Linked DNA regions of Homo sapiens. The protein of the gene in region 1 interacts with the protein of each later gene in a biochemical or structural test. Each region holds a gene or a part of one and is shown in the gene's direction. Other genes may lie near its edges. The genes, in order: ECSIT, FARSA and FBXL12.

What was found.
Region 2: the proteins of ECSIT (region 1) and FARSA form a complex in vitro, tested with the Homo sapiens proteins (one study listed by BioGRID and IntAct).
Region 3: the proteins of ECSIT (region 1) and FBXL12 form a complex in vitro, tested with the Homo sapiens proteins (one study listed by BioGRID).

The regions. Positions count from the first base shown.
Region 1 is NC_000019.10:11,505,360-11,512,174, reverse strand, and holds the end of ECSIT (evolutionarily conserved signaling intermediate in Toll pathway, mitochondrial isoform 1 precursor), read left to right. Parts: intron 1-4,126; coding exon 4,127-4,184; intron 4,185-4,324; coding exon 4,325-4,473; intron 4,474-4,612; coding exon 4,613-4,718; intron 4,719-5,746; coding exon 5,747-5,991; 3' UTR 5,992-6,246; downstream 6,247-6,815. Other genes in the region: ZNF653 (zinc finger protein 653), read left to right, coding at 6,389-6,687.
Region 2 is NC_000019.10:12,923,619-12,930,727, reverse strand, and holds part of FARSA (phenylalanine--tRNA ligase alpha subunit), read left to right. Parts: coding exon 1-116; intron 117-181; exon of another isoform or gene 182-200; coding exon 201-299; intron 300-386; coding exon 387-505; intron 506-1,880; coding exon 1,881-1,973; intron 1,974-2,064; coding exon 2,065-2,193; intron 2,194-2,270; coding exon 2,271-2,386; intron 2,387-5,553; coding exon 5,554-5,638; intron 5,639-5,724; coding exon 5,725-5,824; intron 5,825-5,920; coding exon 5,921-6,089; intron 6,090-6,201; coding exon 6,202-6,279; intron 6,280-6,462; coding exon 6,463-6,577; intron 6,578-7,109.
Region 3 is NC_000019.10:9,809,745-9,816,163, reverse strand, and holds the end of FBXL12 (F-box/LRR-repeat protein 12), read left to right. Parts: exon of another isoform or gene 1-1,993; coding exon of another isoform or gene 1,994-2,026; intron 2,027-2,889; exon of another isoform or gene 2,890-2,933; intron 2,934-4,446; coding exon 4,447-5,268; 3' UTR 5,269-5,894; downstream 5,895-6,419. UniProt on the Homo sapiens protein: Substrate-recognition component of the SCF (SKP1-CUL1-F-box protein)-type E3 ubiquitin ligase complex.

The DNA.
Region 1 (6,815 bases):
TGGGGTTCCACCATGTTGCCCAGGCTGGTCTCAAACTCGTGAGCTCAAGCGATCCACCCACCTTAGCCTCCCAAAGTACTGGGATTGCAAGCATGAGCCACCATGCCTGGCCCCCTCAGACCTTTGTTTGTTTGTTTTTTTTTTGAGATGGAGTCTCGCTCTGTCGCCAGGCTGGAGTGCTGTGGCGCCATCTCAGCTCACTGCAACTCTGACTCCCGGGTTCAAGCGATTCTCCTGCCTCAGCCTCCCAAGTAGCTGGGATTACAGGCATGCACCACCAGGCCCAGCTAATTTTTGTATTTTTAGTAGAAACGGGGTTTTACCATGTTGGCCAGGCTGGTCTTGATCTCCTGACCTCATGATCTGCCCACCTCGGCCTCCCAAAGTGCTGGGATTACACGCGTGAGCCACTGTGCCCGGCCAAGACCTTTTTTATAAGGGGACTAATCTCATTCATGAAGGCAGAGCCCTTATGATCTAAGTGCCTCTCCTCTCAAAGGCCTGACCTCTTAATCCTATTGCATTGTAGATAGATTGCAACATATGAATTTCAGGGGGCCATAAACATTCAGACCATAGCACCCTCCCATCCTTCTCCCAACACTTGCTACATTCTAGGCATCTTCCTTATTTTCTGTGCCAATTCTCACCACAGGGCTTTGCGTTCTCTGTTCCTTCTGCCAGGAACACTGTTCCCCATGGACTTCATGTTATTCCGGTCTCAGCTCCACTGTTCCTAATCAGGATGCCCTTCCTGACCTCCCTGGCCAAGGCACCACCCCTTCACCGTGCTTGGCTTGGTTCCTCATTCACCATGACTCAGTCTCCCTCCTGTCTCCCAAGGCTGAGCACAGGATTTGGTGCAAAGCTGACACTTGGCAGTGGTTTGTTGAATGACTGAGTGGAGTAACACCCTCAACTCAGTGTCCTGGGAGCCCCCACTCATGCCAGATCACACAAGGGATCCAAAGAGAGCCCCTCACAGCACTTGTCATGTGGTCCTGGACAGATAACAGTTTCCTTAAGAGCCAGTGGTTCTGAGATGGAGAAGCCCGGGGTGCTGTGGGAGCCGAGTGGGCAGGTGGGGCTTCCTGGGGGAGGTAAGGAGAGCAGAGGACGCTGGGCAGAGGGAGCAGTGTGTACCAGGAAATGCGGTGCAGTGAGTGGGGGCACCTGATTAAAGAGCTTGATCTCAAACCTCTTGGTTGGTGGGGAGAGCTATGCCGGGGGTGGGGGGGCAGAGATTTAAGAAGAAGGAATCGGGTTGGAATCATGTTTCTGGAAGAATCTGCAATTGGAAACGTGTCTCCTGGCAGCCGTGTGGATGCTGTTGGATGGGGAGAGGGGCTAGGGGACCAGGGTCGTGGGTCCAGGTGAGAGATGGCTTGAGACCAGCAGCAGAATGTGGGGGGGAGGGTTGTTTTTAGTTCATTTCTTCATTTTGCAAAGCAATGCACTAAAAAGCCAAACAGCATGTAAAAGCACACAGTGACGAGTCCTCTGCTTCTACCCAGGCCCCGTGCGCTGCCCCTGACGCCGCCCGTCTCCCTCCCCAGAGGTGACTATTTCCATGTCTCCTTCCAGAGAGGTTCTATACATTTGCAAGCAGATCTCTCTCTCTCTCTCTCTTTTTTTTTTTGGCATCTGTATCCTTTGTATTTAAATATCCTTCTCCCCCGTCTTATGGAGTAAAATACAGCCAGGCACAGTGGCTCATGCCTGTAATCCCAGCACTTTGGGAGGCTGAGGCAGATGGATTGCTTGAGCCCAGGAGTTCGAGACCAGCCTGGGCAACATGGCAAGACCCCATCTCTACCAAAAAAATACGAAAATTAGCTGGGAGTGGTGGTGCACACCTGTAGCCCCAGCTACTCAGGAGGCTGAGGCAGGAGGGTGGCTTGAACTCAGGAAGTCAAGTCTGTAGTGAGCCGTGATCATACCACTGCACACCAGACTGGGTGACAGAGCAAGATCCTGTCTGTTTAAAAAAAAGAAGTTCTTTAGCCAGGCATGGTGGCTTACGCCTGTAATCCCAGCACTTTGGAAGGCCGAGGCAGGCAGATCACCAGAGGTTGGGAGTTCGAGACCAGCCTGACCAACATGGAGAAACCTCGTCTCTACTAAAAATACAAAAAGAATTATCCAGGCATGGTGGTGCATGCCTGTAATCCTAGCTACTTGCGAGGGTGAGGCAGGAGAATCACTTGAACCCAGGAGGTGGAGGTTGCAGTGAGCCGAGATCGCGCCATTGCACTCCAGCCTGGGCAACAAGAGCGAAACTCCATCTCAAAAAAAAAAAAGTTTCTTTAGTAGCAGGGCATTATATACATGTACCTTGCCTTTTACAAATTTCATTTAATACAACTAGAAGTCACTGATCCATCTCAAATTTTTTTGTTGTTTTTTTGAGACAGAGCCTTGCTCTGTCGCCCATGCTGGAGTGCAGTGGCACAATCTCGGCTCACTACAACCTCCTCCTCCCAGGTTCAAGCAATTCTTGTGCCTCAGCCTCCCATGTAGCAGGGACTACAGGCGTGTGCCACCACGCCTGGCTAATTTTTGTATTTCTAGTAGAGACGGGGTTTCACCATGTTGGCCAGGCTGGTCTTGAACTCCTGGCCTCAAGTGATCCACCACCCTCGGCCTCCCAAAGTGCTGGGATTACAGGCATGAGCCACTGCGCCCGGCCTGCTCATCTCAATTTTTTTTAACTTGAAAGGATGAATGATATATGTTCTAATAGCTGTCCACTGTTTTGTTTCAAAAGCAAGTGCATTTTGTTAAAAAAAAAAAAACTTTGTCAGCGGGGCGCAGTGGCTTATGCCTGTAATCCCAATGCTTTGGGAGGCTGAGGCAGGTGGATCACCTGAGGTTGGGAGTTTGAGACCAGCCTGACCAACATGGAGAAACCCTGTCTCTACTAAAAATACAGACATTAGCCAGACGTGGTGGTGCATGCCTGTAATCCCAGCTACTCGGGAGGCTGAGGCAGCAGAATCACTTGAACCCAGGAGGTGGAGGTTGCGGTGAGCTGAGATCAAGCCCCATTGCACTCCAGCCTAGGCAACAAGAGCGAAACTCTGTCCCAAAAAAAAAAAAAAAAAATTGTCTAGTGTTTTTGAATTATGTTCAAGGTATAAAATTTTAAAAGATAAAAAAGGTATTCCTTCCCACCCTGTCCTCCACAGAGGTGAAAGCTATCATTTGCTTCTAGTGTCTCCTTCCTGGGATATTCTGTATATGTGAAGTTATTTTTCTTTTTTTAATTCACAAGCACTGAGCACTTATTATTTGCCAGGGACTGTGCTACATATTTTACAACCACCCAAAGTTAGGTTCATGCCCATAATCCTAGTGCTTTGGGAGGCCAAGGCAGGCGGATCACCTGAGGCCAGGAATTTGAGACCAGCCAGGCCAACATAGCAAAACCCTATCTCTACTAAAAATACAAAAAATTAGCCGGGCATGGTGGCAGGCGCCTGTAGTCCCAGCTACTTGGGAGGCCGACGCAGGAGAATCGCTTGAACCCAGGAGGCGGAGGCTATAGTGAGCCGAGATCATGCCATTGCACTCCAGCCTGGGTAATGAGCAAAACTCCATTTCAAAAATTAAAAAAATAAAATTAGCCAGGCATAGTGGTGTGCACCTGTAGACCCAGCTACTTGGGAGACTGAGGTAGGAAGATCACTTGAGCCCAGGAGTTCAAGGCTACAGTGAGCTATGATCATGCCACCATTCTCCAGCATGGATGACAGAGAGGGAGACCCCCATCCCTAAAAAAAAAAAAAAAATCGGAATTAAGTGCTGTTATCATCCCTATTGTGCATCTGGAGAAACTGAGGCACACAGGTACAGTGACTTGGCCAAGGTCACACAGCTTGTGACAGAGCCAGGATTTTGACAAAGGTGGGCTGGTTCTAGGGTAGTTCCCTCAGGGTGAGCATCCTAAAGATTGGTGGTTATTGCCAAATGGGACAGAGGGAGGAGGGGACAGGTTGGAGGGCCGTGTACCAGATCCAGGAGAGGTGTCCTGAATTCCCTGGTATCCCCCTTTCTGTTTCTCTGTCCCCAGTTCCTCTGTAGGGGATTGGGGGTTACAAGATTATATCCCTACTCTCCCTTGCAGGTTCCTTTGCCCAAAGACTCAACAGGTGCAGCAGATCCCCCCCAGCCCCACATCGTAGGTAAGTCCGAGAGCATGGGGGCAGCCAAGTCTCTAACCTTACCCAGGCCCTGCCAGGTTCTCGCTGGGCCTAGGCTGGGCTCCCTGGGCCTCTGGGCCGAGTCCCTTGCAGGGCACAGGGCATGTATGTCTCCACACCAGGAATCCAGAGTCCCGATCAGCAGGCCGCCCTGGCCCGCCACAATCCAGCCCGGCCTGTCTTTGTTGAGGGCCCCTTCTCCCTGTGGCTCCGCAACAAGTGTGTGTATTACCACATCCTCAGAGCTGACTTGCTGCCCCCGGAGGAGAGGGTGAGGGCTTAAAGCAAAGCATGTGTTGGGGCTGGGGAGTGGGCTGGCACTACCCTGAGGGTGCATGGGAGAGGCTGGAGGAGGGAGACCGAGAGAGCCCTGGCCTCTGACCCCGCCTGCACTCCCCACCTTGGAGTAGGAAGTGGAAGAGACGCCGGAGGAGTGGAACCTCTACTACCCGATGCAGCTGGACCTGGAGTATGTGAGGAGTGGCTGGGACAACTACGAGTTTGACATCAATGAAGGTAAAAACTGGGCCAGGTGCGGTGGCTCACATGTGTGCTCGTAATCCCAGCCCTCCTACAGGCTGAGGTGGGAGGATCACTTGAGCCCAGGAGTTGAGGTTGCAGTGAACTATTATAGAGCCACTGCACTCCAGCCTACATGATAGACCCTGTGTCAAAAAAAAAAAAAAAAAAGGCAAAAACCTGGACAGGCAGGACTTCCAAACATTCCAAACACCACCCAGGATGAGGGGCGGCCTCTGGGGTCAAGGGGTAGGCCCAGGCTGAGACGCAGTCCACTTACACCCTCGTCCTCCGGCCGCACACACTCATTTGCCCCAGGGGCTCCAGACCTGAGGTCACCCAGCCCTGTTGGCCCTTGTTCATTCCCTCCCTCCTACAACTCTGTGCTGGCTACTGGGTGTCACCAGGACAAACCTAGTCCCTCGAGTCAGCAAGGGAACAGGCAAATTACACTTTGGGGAGCTTAGGAGAGGAGCATGCCTTGAGTGGGGGGTCAGGAGGCCTTCCTGGCAGAATACAGAAAAACCAGGAGTCATCGCCCGGGTGAAGTGTGGAGTGGGCAGCCTAGGCAGCGGGGCTAGCTTGTGCAAAGGTTTGGAGGCACAAGAAAGTGGAAGGAAGCCGGGCACAGTGGCTCACGCCTGTAATCCCAGCACTCTGGGAGGCTGAGGCGGGTAGATCATTTGAGGTCAGGAATTCGAGACCAGCCTGGCCAACATGGTGAAACCCCATCTCTACTAAAAATTTAAAAATTAGCCCGGCGTGGTGCTGTGCACCTGTAATCCCAGCTCCTCGGGAGGCCGAGGCAGGAGAATCACTTGAACCTGGGAGGCGGATGTTGCAGTGAGCCGAGATCTCGCCACTGCACTCCAGCCTGGGTGACACAGCGAGACTCCGTCTCAAAAAAAAAAAAAAAAAAAAAAAGGAAGTGGAAGGGAGTGTAAAATACCTCAAAAAGGTGTAGGCATGGGTTAGCCGCTGCAGCCCCCACTGTGCAAACCTTAAGGGTGCATGTCTTCCAACAGTGGAGGAAGGCCCTGTCTTCGCCATGTGCATGGCGGGTGCTCATGACCAGGCGACGATGGCTAAGTGGATCCAGGGCCTGCAGGAGACCAACCCAACCCTGGCCCAGATCCCCGTGGTCTTCCGCCTCGCCGGGTCCACCCGGGAGCTCCAGACATCCTCTGCAGGGCTGGAGGAGCCGCCCCTGCCCGAGGACCACCAGGAAGAAGACGACAACCTGCAGCGACAGCAGCAGGGCCAGAGCTAGTCTGAGCCGGCGCGAGGGCACGGGCTGTGGCCCGAGGAGGCGGTGGACTGAAGGCATGAGATGCCCTTTGAGTGTACAGCAAATCAATGTTTTCCTGCTTGGGGCTCTCTTCCCTCATCTCTAGCAGTATGGCATCCCCTCCCCAGGATCTCGGGCTGCCAGCGATGGGCAGGCGAGACCCCTCCAGAATCTGCAGGCGCCTCTGGTTCTCCGAATTCAAATAAAAAGGGGCGGGAGCGCTGTTGGTTGTGCGCATGCGCAGTTTCCATTCTTGGTCTCCTTTTGGCGCCCTGGGGCAGCGAGAGACCGTGAGAAATTTCTCGGCGGCGCCGAAGATGCGCGCCACTTCCGGTCTGGCTCCTAACAACGGGGGAGGCTGGTAACCAGGGTGGGGGGGATGGCGGAGCGGGCGCTAGAGCCCGAGGCGGAGGCGGAGGCTGAGGCGGGCGCGGGCGGGGAGGCAGCAGCCGAGGAGGGCGCAGCGGGCCGAAAGGCGCGGGGCCGGCCGCGACTCACGGAGTCGGACCGGGCCCGGCGACGGCTCGAGTCCCGGAAGAAGTACGACGTGCGGCGCGTGTACCTGGGCGAGGCGCACGGGCCCTGGGTGGACCTGCGGCGCCGCAGCGGCTGGAGCGACGCCAAGCTCGCCGCCTACCTCATCTCTCTGGAGCGCGGCCAGCGGAGCGGCCGCCACGGGTGAGGGGGCCTGGCCCCGAGGGAGGGAGGGAGGAGACGCCCCCAGACCCCGCCGGGCTTTACCCCGCCCCCTCCGCTTCTAGGGCCAGCCCCCGGCACCTGCGGACCCCGCCCAGGAGCCGGGCCGG
Region 2 (7,109 bases), 1.4 Mb from region 1:
CCACCAAGCACTGGGAGCTTACTGCGGAGGGCGAGGAGATTGCCCGGGAGGGCAGCCATGAGGCCCGTGTGTTTCGAAGCATTCCCCCAGAGGGCCTGGCCCAGAGCGAGCTTATGGTAGGAGCTGCGGGGTGAATGGGGAGTGAGTGATGGGATGAAGGTGGCCCTCGTGCCCCACTCACTGCAGCCTCTCTTTTCCAGCGACTGCCCAGTGGCAAAGTGGGCTTCAGCAAGGCCATGTCCAACAAGTGGATTCGGGTGGACAAGAGTGCGGCTGACGGGCCCCGGGTGTTCCGAGTGGTGCGTTCCTGCGGGCTGGTCAGGGGGCAGGTGGACGGGCACATGGGCCCCTGGCCCTCATACCCCTCACACTCCTTATCCTGGCAGGTGGACAGCATGGAGGATGAGGTGCAGCGGCGGCTCCAGCTGGTCCGGGGGGGACAGGCTGAGAAGCTGGGGGAGAAGGAGAGGAGCGAGCTGAGGAAGAGGAAGCTGTTGGCTGAAGTGTGAGTGGGTGCCCCCTGCAGGCTCAGGCCCCCACCACCTGCGAAGCATGGTGGAGGCATGGTGGGAGGGAGACATCTTGCCCACACCAAGCACAGGTGTGGCCAGTTTCCTCCCAGCTCGCTTAATGCCATAGTTGTCAAGCCTACGTGCCTTGGGGTCTTTGCCCATGAGGACCCTTCTGCTGAGAACTGTTTTCCCTCTGATCTTCAAGATAGGCTCCTCATCAAGTCTCTCTCCTGTGTCCCCTTAAAGAGGCCACCCTGACAGCCCTCCTCTCCCCTTGAGTTCCATGAAGCCCATCGCCCCTAGTCTTCATCTTTGGTGCTTGTTCATTTCTTTCACTGTCCTTAGTGTGGTCCAAAGTTTAATGAACACACACCAGACAGGCCTCTGGAACCTAGATGGGCTAGGGGCCGTCCTCTCACAGGACAAATGTCCCCTTTGAGCAGACACAGAGTGGCAGAGAGAAGAGACTAGAGCTGGGATGCCTAACTGAAGTTCGGGCTCTGTCACTTAACTAGTTTTATGACCTTGGCCAAGTCACCTGGCCTTTGCTGGTCTCCGTTTCCTTATCTATAAAATAGCCTGGGCCAAGTGTGTGGCTCACGTGTGTAATCCCAGCTACTCAGGAGGCTGAAGTGTTAGGATCACTTGAATCCATGAATTCAAGGCCAGCCTGGGCAACATAGAGAGACCCCCATCTCAAAGAAAAAGGGGCCAGGCACGATGGCTCATGCCTGTAATCCCAGCACTTTGGGAGGCCGAGGCGGGCAAATCACCTGAGGTCAGGAGTTCGAGACCAGCCTGGCCAACATGGTGAAACCTCGTCTTTACTGAAAATACAAAACTTAGCCGGGTGTGGTGGCGGGTGCCTGTAATCCCAGCTACTCTGGAGGCTGAGGCAGGAGAATCGCTTGAATCTGGGAGGTGGAGGATGCAGTGAGCTGAGACCGTGCCATTGCACTCTAGCCTAGGCAACAAGAGCAAAACTCTGTCTCAAAAAAGGAAAACAAACAAACAAATAAAAAAAACTGCCCTCTTTCCGGGGCTTGTGGGGAGACTTTTGCAGAACAGAGCCTGGCACAGAATAAATCTGCTAGACTTTCCCTAGTATCATCACTCAGTCGTGTACTTAGCACCTTGAACAGACCCTGGCACACATTAGGTTCTCAGTAAGTGTTGAATGAATCAGTGAGTGAATACAGGGAGATACAGCATGGTCACATAGGAGGATTTCAGGTAGTGATAAATGTCAGGATGGAAATAAAGCAGAGTGACTTGGTAGGTAGCATGGGGATCCTCATCAGACGGGAGATCAAGGAAGTCCTCTAGGAGGAGATGGCAGTGGCGTCCCCTTCCTTCCCCTGGCCACAGGACTCTGAAGACCTACTGGGTGAGCAAAGGCAGTGCCTTTAGTACCAGCATCTCCAAGCAAGAGACAGAGCTGAGCCCAGAGATGATCTCCAGGTAGCAGGCAACCCCAGGGTCAGGGCAGGTGGGAGCTGGGGCAGGGGGCAGGGGCGGGCAGCCCTTACCAGGCCCTTGCATCCTCCCCCAGTGGCTCTTGGCGGGACCGGCCCTTCAAGCCCTACAACTTCTTGGCCCACGGTGTCCTCCCCGACAGCGGCCACCTTCACCCGCTGCTCAAGGTCCGCTCCCAGTTCCGACAGATCTTCCTGGAGATGGGGTGAGCACAGGGCTGGGGGCGGTGCCTGGTGCTTCTGCTGGGTACAGGCAGGGCAGTCAGGCTGTGTCTCCCACCAGGTTCACCGAGATGCCGACTGATAACTTCATTGAGAGCTCCTTCTGGAACTTTGACGCCCTCTTCCAGCCCCAGCAGCACCCAGCCCGTGACCAGCACGACACCTTCTTCCTTCGAGGTGGGTCAGCCCCTAGGGCCTCCCTGAGACATGAGAGACACCAGGCCACGGCGGAGCCTTTACAGGATGGGCATCCCATTTGATCAAATTAGGTCTAGAACTGGGCATGGTGGTGTGCACCTGTAGTCCGGCTATTTGGGAGGCCAAGGCAGGAGGATTGCATGAGCCCAGGAGTTCAAATCCAGCTCAGGCAACATAGGGAAGAATCTACCTCTAAAAAAATTAATTGAGTTAAATTAAAGTCCATCCTTGTTGGATGTGTCAAGCTCTGTTCTCATTATGCCACCTGCAGTCTTTTTTTTTTTTTTTTTTTTTTTTGAGACAGGGTCTCACTCTGTCGCCCAAGCTGGAGTGTGCAGTGGCATGATCTTGGCTCGCTGCAAACTTTGCCTCCCAGGTTCAAGCGATTCTCCTGCCTCAGCCTCCCGAGTAGCTGGGATTACAGGTGCATACCACCATGCCCAGCTAATTTTTGTATTTTTAGTAGAGATGGAGTTTTGCCATGTTGGCCAGGGTGGTCTCAAACTCCAGTCTGCCTCGGCCTCCCAAAGTGCTGGGATTACAGGCGTGAGCCACCGCACCTGGCTTTTTTTTTTTTTTTTTTTTTTTTTTGAGACAGTCTCATTCTGTCGCCCAAGCTAGAGTGCAGTGGCACGATCTCAGCTCACTGCAATTTCCACCTCCTGGGTTCAAGCGATTCTCCTGCCTCAGCCTCCTGAGTAGCTGGGATTACAGGCACCCGCCACCACGCTCGGCTAATTTTTGTGTTTTTAATAGAGATGGGGTTTGCCATGTTGGCCAGGCTGGTCTGGAACTCCTGACCTCAAGTGATACTCCCGCCTCAGCCTCCCAAAGTGCTAGGATTACAGGCGTGAGCACCACGCCTAGCCCAAAATTAATGAATTTTTGTTTTGTTTTGTTCTCACTATGTTGCCCAGGCTGGTCTCAAACTCCTGATCTCAAACAGTTTTGCCTCAGCCTCCCAAAGTGCTGGGATTACAGGCATGAGCCCCCACACCCTGCCTGCCCCCATGTCTTCTTTGGGCATTCCAGGCCGTGCACACCTCAGGGCCTTTGCTTATGTTCCGTCTTTAGCCAAGAGCTGTTTTCTCCCAGATCTTCAAGGCAGGCTGCAGCCTCAAATCTCTGCTCACGTGTCACCAGAGACAGGCCAGCCTAACACTCCCGGGCTCACCCCGAGTTCTACAGAAGCCCTTCTCCCCTAGTGTTCATTCTTCTGTCCCATTTCTTTCTTTCATTGCCCTTAGCACTGTCTGAAATGGAATGACTTCCCACAATGGGGTGGCCTTCCTGACCAAGAGGGCAGTTGAGGTCATTGGGTGCCGGCTTACCTGGCCAGAGGAGCAACATCATTCTTGTCATTATTGTCATAGCACCCAAAACTTACTAAGCACTCATCACATACTAGCCACTATTCTAATCTTCCTGCCAACTACTGGAAGCAGTACTGTTACCCCTTTTTACAAAGAAGGAAACTTGGCCAGCCTCAGTGGGTATAATCCCACTGTTTGGGAGGGCAAGGGAGGAGGATCGCTTGAGCCCAGGAGTTTGAGAACAGCCTAAGCAACATAGAAAGACCCATCTGTACAAATAAAATTAGCTGGGCATAGTAGTGCACGCCTGTAGTTGCAGCTACTCGGGAGGCTGAGGTGAAGGATTGCTTGAGCCTGGGAGTTTGAGGCTGCAGTGAGCTATGATTGCATCACTGCACTGCAGGCCAAGCAACAGAGCAAGACTTTGTCTCTTTAGGCCGGGCGCGGTGGCTCACGCCTGTAATCCCAGCACTTTGGGAGGCTGAGACGGGCGGATCGCGAGGTCAGGAGATCAAGACCATCCTGGATAACACAGTGAAACCCCGTCTCTACCAAAAATACAAAAACAATTAGCCAGGCATAGTGGCGGGCGCCTGTAGTCCCAGCTACTCGGGAGGCTGAGGCAGGAGAATGGTGTGAACCCTGGAGGCGGAGCTGGCAGTTAGCCGAGATCATGCCACTGCACTCCAGCCTGGGTGACTGAGCGAGACTCCGTCTAAAAAAAAAAAAAATTTTGTCCCTTTAAAAAAAAAAAATAGGCCGGGCGCGGTGGCTCACGCCTGTAATTCCAGCACTTTGGGAGGCCACGGTGGGTGGATCGAGACCATCCTGGCCAACATGGTGAAATCCCATCTCTACTAAAAATACAAAAATTAGCTGGGCATGGTGGCGTGTGCCTGTAGTCCCATCTATTCAGGAGGCTGAGGCAGGAGAATCACTCGAACCTGGGAGGCAGAGGTTGCAGTGAGCCGAGATCGCGCCACTGCACTCCAGCCTGGGCGACAGAGCGAGACTCCGTCTCAAAAAAAAAGAAAAAATAAAAAGGTCGGGCGCGGTGGCATGATCCCAGCACTTTGGGAGGCCCAGGCAGGCGGATCACTTGAAGTCAGGAGTTCGAGACCAGCCTGGCCAACATGGTGAAACCCCACGTCTACCAAATATAAAAAATTAGCTGTGTGTGGTGGTGCACTTCTGTAATCCCAGCTACTTGGGAGGCTGAGGCAGGAGAATTGCTTGAACCTGGGAGGAGGAGGTTGCAGTGAGCCAAGATCATGCCACTGCACTCCAGCCTGGGCAACAGAGCAAGACTCCATCTCAAAATACATACATACATACGTACATACATAAATAAAGCCCAGGTGCAGTGGCTCATGCCTGTAATCCCAACACTGGGAGGCCGAGGTGGGTGGATCACCTGAGATCAGGAGTTCGAGACCACCCTGACCAACATGGCGAAACCCCATCTCTACTAAAAATACAAAAATTTCCCGGGTGTGGTGGCAGGCACCTGTAATCCCAGCTACTTGGGAGGCTGAATCAGGAGAATTGCTTGAACTTGGGAGGTGGAGGTTGCAGTGAGCCAAGATTGAGCCATTGTACTTCAGCTGGGCCAACTGAACAAGACTCTGTCTCAAAAAAAAAGAACCCAAAAAAGCCACACACAAATGAGAAAACTGAGGCACGAGAATCACTTGAACCTGGGAGGCAGAGGTTGCAGTAAGCCCAGATTGCACCACCGCACTCCAGCCTGGACAACAGTGAGACCCTGTCTGAAAAAAAAAAAGGGGTGGGAAATGCTCGTTGACTGACCTGATGTTGCTCTGTCCTGCCCAGATCCAGCGGAGGCCCTGCAGCTCCCAATGGACTATGTCCAGCGGGTCAAGCGGACCCACTCTCAGGGCGGCTACGGCTCACAGGGGTGAGGCAGGACTTACCTGGTATGGAAGGGAAGGAGGCTGGGGACCCCTGGGCCATTGCATGGACTTCCCACCTTCCCTCCTGAAGGTACAAGTATAACTGGAAGCTGGACGAGGCCCGGAAAAACCTACTGCGAACCCACACCACATCAGCCAGCGCCCGTGCGCTCTACCGCCTTGCCCAGAAGGTGCGGTTGGCCCAGGCGGGGGCCCCAGTGGGGAGAGGGTGCTGTCAAAGGGACCTTCTGACCCATACCTGGGCCTGGCTCGGTTGTCACCCCTAGAAGCCCTTCACTCCGGTCAAGTACTTCTCCATCGACCGCGTATTCCGGAATGAGACCCTGGACGCCACGCACCTGGCTGAGTTCCACCAGATCGAGGGCGTGGTGGCGGATCATGGTCTCACCTTGGGCCACCTCATGGGCGTTCTGCGGGAGTTCTTCACCAAGCTGGGTGAGCAGGGGGGCAGGGGTGGGCCATGGTGGTGAGGCAGCGGGCAGGTGTGTTGATCACCAGCATTATCCTCCAAACCCCTGCTCTCCTGCCCGCCCCCCACTTCCTGCAGGTATCACGCAACTCCGCTTCAAGCCAGCCTACAACCCATACACAGAGCCCAGCATGGAGGTGTTCAGCTACCACCAAGGTCAGGGTAGGCCCTGGTACTGGGGTGGGAGGGAGGTCTCAGGCTACTATGGTTTGGCCTGGGTCCCCCCATTGCCATGCCTGTACCCCACCTCCCAAGCTCACCACCTAGACCCAGAACCTGTACCAGCAGTGCCCAGAAACTCAACACGCACTGCCCGTCTTTTCTGTCCTGCCTCTGCAGGCCTGAAGAAGTGGGTGGAGGTCGGAAACTCGGGGGTCTTCCGTCCAGAGATGCTGCTGCCCATGGGGCTTCCCGAGAACGTGTCGGTCATTGCCTGGGGCCTCTCCCTGGAGCGGTAAGTGCCCAAGTGGAAACTCGGGGTGTCCAGCTGCCTCAAATAACTCTCCAGGTATAGGGGCCTGCGTGGTTTCAGCACCACCCATTCATTCATCCAATGGACAAAACTTTCATCGTGAGTACAAACTGAATGCTCAGCCCCGTGCTGTGAACATGACAGCTTATGTCCCTCCCTCTGAATCTGGGGTCCCAGTGGAGCGAGAAGGATGATAACTAGCAAGACCAACAAGTACATCAGGCCAGGCGTGGTAGCTCATGCCTGTCATCCCAGTGCTGTGGGAGGCCAAGGCAGGAGGATCGCCTGAGCCAGGAGTTTGAGATCAGCCTGGGCAATAGAGCAAGTCTCCGCCTCTACAAAGAATAAAAACAGGCCAGGCGTGGTGGCACATGCCTGTAATCCAAGCACTGTGGGTGGCTGAAGCAGGTGCATCACCTGAGGACAGGAGTTCGAGGCCAGCCTGGCCAACATGGCGAAACCTCATCTCTACTAAAAATATAAAAATTAGCCTGGCGTGGTAGCAGGTGCCTGT
Region 3 (6,419 bases), 1.7 Mb from region 1:
CCCAGGAGGAAAAAGTGGTTTCCTGGGGGCCCAGGGTCCCTGTGCTATGTTCACCCTGGGACTTGGTGTCCTGTGCCCTAGCTGCTCCAGCTGTAGCTGAAAGGGGCCAACGTATAACTCGGGCTGTGGCTTCAGAGGGTGGAAGCCCCAAGTCTTGGCAGCTTCCACATGGTCTTGAGCCTGCTGGTGCACAGAAGCCAAGAACTGAGGTTCAGGGCCAGGCACAGTGGCTCACGCCTATAATCCCAGCACTTTGGGAGGCCAAGGCAGGCGGATCACTTGAGGTCAGGAGTTCAAGACCAGCCTGGCCAACATGGTGAAACCCCATCTCTACTAAAAATACAACAAATGCGTGGTGGCGCATGCTTGTAATCCCAGCTACTCGGGAGGCTGAGGCAGGAGAATCGCTTGAACCCGGGAGGCAAAGGTTGCAGTGACTCAAGATCGTGCCATTGCATTCCAGCCTGGGTGACAAGAGCGAAACTCCATCTCAAAAAAAAAAAAAAAGAATTGAAGTTTAGGAACCTCTGCCTAGATTTCAGAAGATGTGTGGAAATGCCTGGATGTCCAGGCAAAAGTTTGCTACAGGGGTGGGGCCCTCATGGAGAACCTCTGCTAGGGCAGTGTGGAAGGGAAATGTGGGGTCAGAGCCCCCACACAGAGTCCCTATTGGGTCACTGCCTAGTGGAGCTGTGAGAAGAGGGCCACTGTTCTCCAGACTCCAGAATGGTAGATCCACCCACAGCTTGCACCATGCACCTGGAAAAGCTTCAGACACTCAACACCAGCCTGTGAAAGCAGCTGGGAGGGAGGCTGTACCCTGTAAAGCCACAAGGGGCGGAGCTGGCCAAGACCATGGGAACCCACCTCTTGCATCAGTGTGACCTGGTTGTGAGACCTGGAATCAAAGGAGATAATTTTGGAGCTTTAAAATTTGACTGCCCCACTGGATTTCAGACTTGCATGGGCCCTGTAACCCCTTTGTTTTGGCCAATTTCTCCCATTTGGAATGGCTGCATTTACCCAATACCTGTACTCACATTGTATCTAGGAAGTAACTAGCTAGCTTTTGATTTTATAGGCTCATAGGTGGAAGGGACTTGCCTTGTCTCAGATGAGACTTTGGACTGTGGACTTTTGGGTTAATGCTGAAATGAGTTAAGACTTTGGAAGACTGTTGGGAAGCCATGATTGGTTGTGAAATGTGAAGACATGAGACTTGGAGGGGCCGGGGTGGAATGATATAGTTTGGCTGTGTCCCCACCCAAATCTCAACTTGAATTGTATTTCCCAGAATTCCCATGTGTTGTGAGAGGGACCCAGGGGAAATAATTGAATCTTGGGGGCTGGTCTTTCCCATGCTATTCTCGTGATAGTGAATAAATCTCAAGAGATCTGATGGGTTTATCAGGGGTTTCCATTTTTGCTTTGTTCTCGTTTTCTTAATTTTTTTTTTTTTTTTTTTTTTGAGATGGAGTCTTGCTCTGTTGCCAGGCTGGAGTGCAGTGGTATGATCTCAGCTCACTGCAACCTCTGCCTCCTGGGTTCAAGTGATTCCCCTGCCTCAGCCTCCTGAGAAGCTGGGACTACAGGCACGTGCCACCACACTGAGCTAATTTTTTGTATTTTTTAAATTAATTTATTTATTTTTCTTTGAGTCGGAGTCTTGTTCTGCCACCAGGCTGGAGTGCAGTGGTGCGATCTCAGTTCACTGGAACCTCTGCCTCCCGTGTTCAAGCGATTCTCCTACCTCAGCCTCCTTAGTAGCTGGGACTACAGGCATGCACCACCACACTCGGCTAATTTTTTTTTGTATTTTAGTAGAAACGGGGTTTTGTCATGTTGGCCAGGATGGTCTCAATCTCCTGACCTCGTGATCCGCCCGCATCGGCCTTCCAAAGTGCTGGGATTATGGGCATGAGCCACTGCGCCCGGGCTTCTTTCTCATTTTCTCTTGCTGCCGCCATGTAAGAAGTGCCTTTCACCTCCTGCCATGATTTTGAGGCCTCCCCAGCCATGTGGAACTGTAAGTCCAATTAAACCTCTTTTTCTTCCCAGTCTCAGGTATGTTTTTATCAGCAGCATGAAAATAGACTAATACAGTTTGTATTACATGGGTATATATATGCATGTATAAAAGGCAAATGTAAGCATGCTTTCTGAAGGATTGATGATAAGCTATTTTCTTCAGTGAATGGAAGAGTTTGATGTAGAAACACCTTTTTGGCCGGGTGCAGTGGCTCATGCCTGTAATCCCAGCACTTTGGGAGGCCGAGGTGGACAGATCACTTGAGGTCGGGTGTTTGAGACCAGCCTGACCTACATGGAGAAACCCTGTCTCTACTAAAAATACAAAATTAAGGCCAGGCGCGTGGCTCATGCCTGTAATCCCAGCACCTTGGGAGGCCAAGGTGGTTGGATCACGAGGTCAGGAGATTGAGACCATCCTGGCTAACATGGTGAAACCGCGTCTCTACTAAAAATACAAAAAAAACATAGCCGGGCATGGTGGCATACGCCTGTAGTACCAGCTACTTGGGAGGCTGAAGCAGGAGAATTGCTTGAACCTGGGAGGTGGAGATTGCAGTGAGCCGAGATTGCGCTACTGCACTCCAGCCTGGGCAACAGAGCGAGACTCTGTCTCAAAAAAAAAAAAAAAAATTAGCCGGGCATGGTGGCACATGCCTGTAATCCCAGCTACTCAGGAGGCTAAGGCACGAGAATCGCTTGAACCCAGGAGGCGGAGGTTGCGGTGACTGAGATCGTGCCATTGCACTCCAGCCTGGGCAACAAGCAAAACTCCGTCTCAAAAAAAAAGAAAAGAAAAGAAACACCTTTGTAAGCACACATAAAGAATATGTTATTAGACAATTTTCCTTTTTCCATTAGGCCCTATGATGCCAAGTAGAGAAATCCAGCAATAAAAGGCAGATGTAAGCATGCTAACTTTTTCTTTTTAAGATAAACTGTACTTAGAATGAAATGCCCAGTGCTATCAATTATATATATTTTTTATTTTCTACTAAGTCTAACTTCCCAGGGTTGATTTTTGCAGCTTCCACTCTACCAGGCTTTGATATATTTTTTTTTTTGACATGGAGTTTCGCTCTTGTTGCCCAGGCTGGTGCAACGGCACGATCTTGGCTCATCGCAGCCTCTGCTTCCCAGGTTCAAGTGATTCTCCTGCCTCAGCCTCCCAAGTAGCTGGGATTACAGGCGTGCACCACCACACCTGGCTAATTTTGTATTTTTAGTAGAGACGGGGTTTCTCCATGTTGGTCAGGCTGGTCTTGAACTCCTGACCTCAGGTGATCTGCCCGCCTTGGCCTCCCAAAGTGCTGGGATTACAGGTGTGAGCCACCGTGCCCAGCCTTTTCATTTGTTGTTTTTTTTTTTTTTTTTTTAACATAGACCTAATTTACTCTGGGTAGTTTTCGGCTTTTAAAATTTTATTCTGTGTTGCTTATTTCTACTGGAGGTGATCATTAAGAAAGGGGTAAAATATCAATGGGTTGCTCTGCTCTTTTTCTTAGTCCAGAAAAAACGGTAAAAATTTATTGCTAAAGATAGATTCTGTTAGTATCTTTTTTTCCCCTACCAGATTTATCTTTTTTTTTTTTTTTTTTTTTTTTTGAGACAGAGTCTCACTCTATCGCCCAGGCTGGAGTGCAGTGGTGCGATATCGACTCACTGCAACCTTTGTCTCCTGGGTTCAAGTGATTCTCTTGCCTCAGCCTCTTGAGTAGCTGGGATTACAGGTGCTTGCCACCACGCCCAGCTAATTTTTGTATTTTTAGTAGAAACATGGTTTCACCATGTTGGCCAGGCTGGTATTAAACTCCTGACCTCAAATGATCCATCCACCTCAGCCTCCCAAAGTGCTGGGATTACAGGCATGAGCCACTGTGCCCAGCCCCTACCAGATTTATTCTAAGTGGCCGAGTGCAGTGGCTCACGACTGTAGACCCAGCACTTTGAGGGGCTGAGATGGGAGGATTGCTTGAATCCAGGAGTTGGAGACCAGCCTGGGCAACATAGCAAGACCTCATCTCTACTAAAAATCACAAAAATTAGCTGGGCATGTGTCAGAAGTCCCAGCCACTTGGGAAGCTGAAGTGGGAGAATCACTTGAGCCTAGGAGGTCCAGGCTGCAGTGAGCCATTATCTCACCACTGCACTGTAGACTGGGTGACAGAGCAAGAACCTGTCTCAGAAAAAAAAAAAAAAAAAAAGATTTGTTCAAAGCCCTAGCAGGCAAGATGGTGCACTCAAACCATCTGGTTGAACCTGGGGAGGTTGAACCTGGGGAGGAGACTGGCTAGGCAAGGGCAGAAGCCCAGCAGGGCACCAGAATCCCCCACCCCGGGGTTGTGTGTCTCCAGCCCAGCAGGGGCCTTGGAAGCTCCATACCTCTCACTCTGTCACCCCAATCTCTGGCTCTTACAGATGCGACCTAAAGTCATGTGGCACCTCCTTCGAAGGTACATGGCATCCCGGCTCCATTCCCTGCGGATGGGTGGCTACCTGTTCTCTGGCTCCCAGGCCCCCCAGTTGTCCCCTGCTCTGTTGAGAGCCCTGGGCCAGAAGTGCCCCAACCTGAAGCGCCTCTGCCTGCACGTGGCCGACCTGAGCATGGTGCCCATCACCAGCCTGCCCAGCACCTTGAGGACCCTGGAGCTGCACAGCTGCGAGATCTCCATGGCCTGGCTCCACAAGCAGCAGGACCCCACCGTGCTGCCCCTGCTTGAATGCATCGTGCTGGACCGCGTCCCCGCCTTCCGTGACGAGCACCTGCAGGGCCTGACGCGCTTCCGGGCCTTGCGCTCGCTGGTGCTGGGTGGTACCTACCGTGTGACCGAGACAGGGCTGGATGCTGGCCTGCAGGAGCTCAGCTATCTGCAGAGGCTTGAGGTGCTGGGCTGCACCCTGTCTGCCGACAGCACCCTGCTGGCCATCAGCCGCCACCTCCGAGATGTGCGCAAGATCCGGCTGACCGTGAGGGGCCTCTCTGCCCCTGGCCTGGCTGTGCTGGAGGGAATGCCGGCCCTGGAGAGTCTGTGCCTGCAGGGTCCCCTCGTCACCCCAGAAATGCCCTCCCCCACTGAAATCCTCTCCTCCTGCCTCACTATGCCCAAGCTCAGAGTCCTTGAGCTGCAGGGGCTGGGGTGGGAGGGTCAGGAGGCGGAGAAGATCCTGTGTAAGGGGCTGCCCCACTGTATGGTCATCGTCAGGGCTTGCCCCAAAGAGTCTATGGACTGGTGGATGTAACTACTCCACCTGCCCTTGGGACCCATCCCAGTTTTCATCATTGAGCCCCAGACCCTCTGAGCAGCACCTTGAAGAGGGCAGATAATCAGACTTGAGGAAACTGAAAGCCCCAGGTTGAGAGAACAGAGGCCTAGGGACCTCCAGACCATTGGAATCACTGTTTGCCAGCTGTGTGGCCTTGGTCATATCATCAGCCTCTGGGAAGCCTAGTTCCCACATCTGGAAATAAGGATGATCATAGCTACCTCACGGTTACATTGCAAAGCCTTACTCTAAAAGCTCCCAGCCTCCAGAGGCTCTCAATGAAGAGTCACCTTCATGGTCGTCTTCAGGAACAGGACGGATGAAGAAGGGGTGGGGTTAAGACTCAGGGGCACCTGAGGGTCTGAGCCCCCTTATGAGTACCCAAGAAGGACTGTCTATGCATGCACACCCACAAGCCTATACACCATTTATATACCTACACGCACGCAAGAGACGCGGAGAGATAGGCGATGCAGACTCGCGATTCAATGATCGATATGCTCATAAAAGTGCTCAATTATATTTTCTGTATTTTGTATGCTGTATTTTCCAAGACGTATATTATTTTACTATTAAAGAAAAAAATCATTTTTTTTTCCCGAGAAGTATTCAGTTTATTCATTCAACCAATCTTTCTTGAGCTTCTGCTATTTTGCAGGCACTGTTCTAGGTTCTGGGAAACTGGGCCACCACAGTGAACAAAACTGACAAGACCCTGCCCTCGTAGATCTCATAGAGGAGAAGACAGGACAACAAACAGGTAAGCCAGTCCATGCTTTAGTTTTTTTGTGTGGGGACAGAGTCTCACTCTGTCACCCAGGCTGGAGTGCAGTGGTGCGATCTTGGCTCACTGCAACCTCCGTCTCCCGGGTTCAAGTGATTCTCCTGCCTCAGCCTCCCAAGTAGCTGGGATTACAGGCACCCGCCACCACGCCCAGCTAATTTTTGTATCTTTAGTAGAGATGGGGTTTCACCATGTTGGTCAGGCTGGTCTCAAACTCCTGACCTCGTGATCTGCTCACCTCGGCCTCCCAAAGTGCTGGAATTACAGGTGTGAGCCACTGCGCTCGGCCACCATGTTGTAATTTTGGAGACTCTGAGCCAGTACACCAGGGTCACGTGATGGA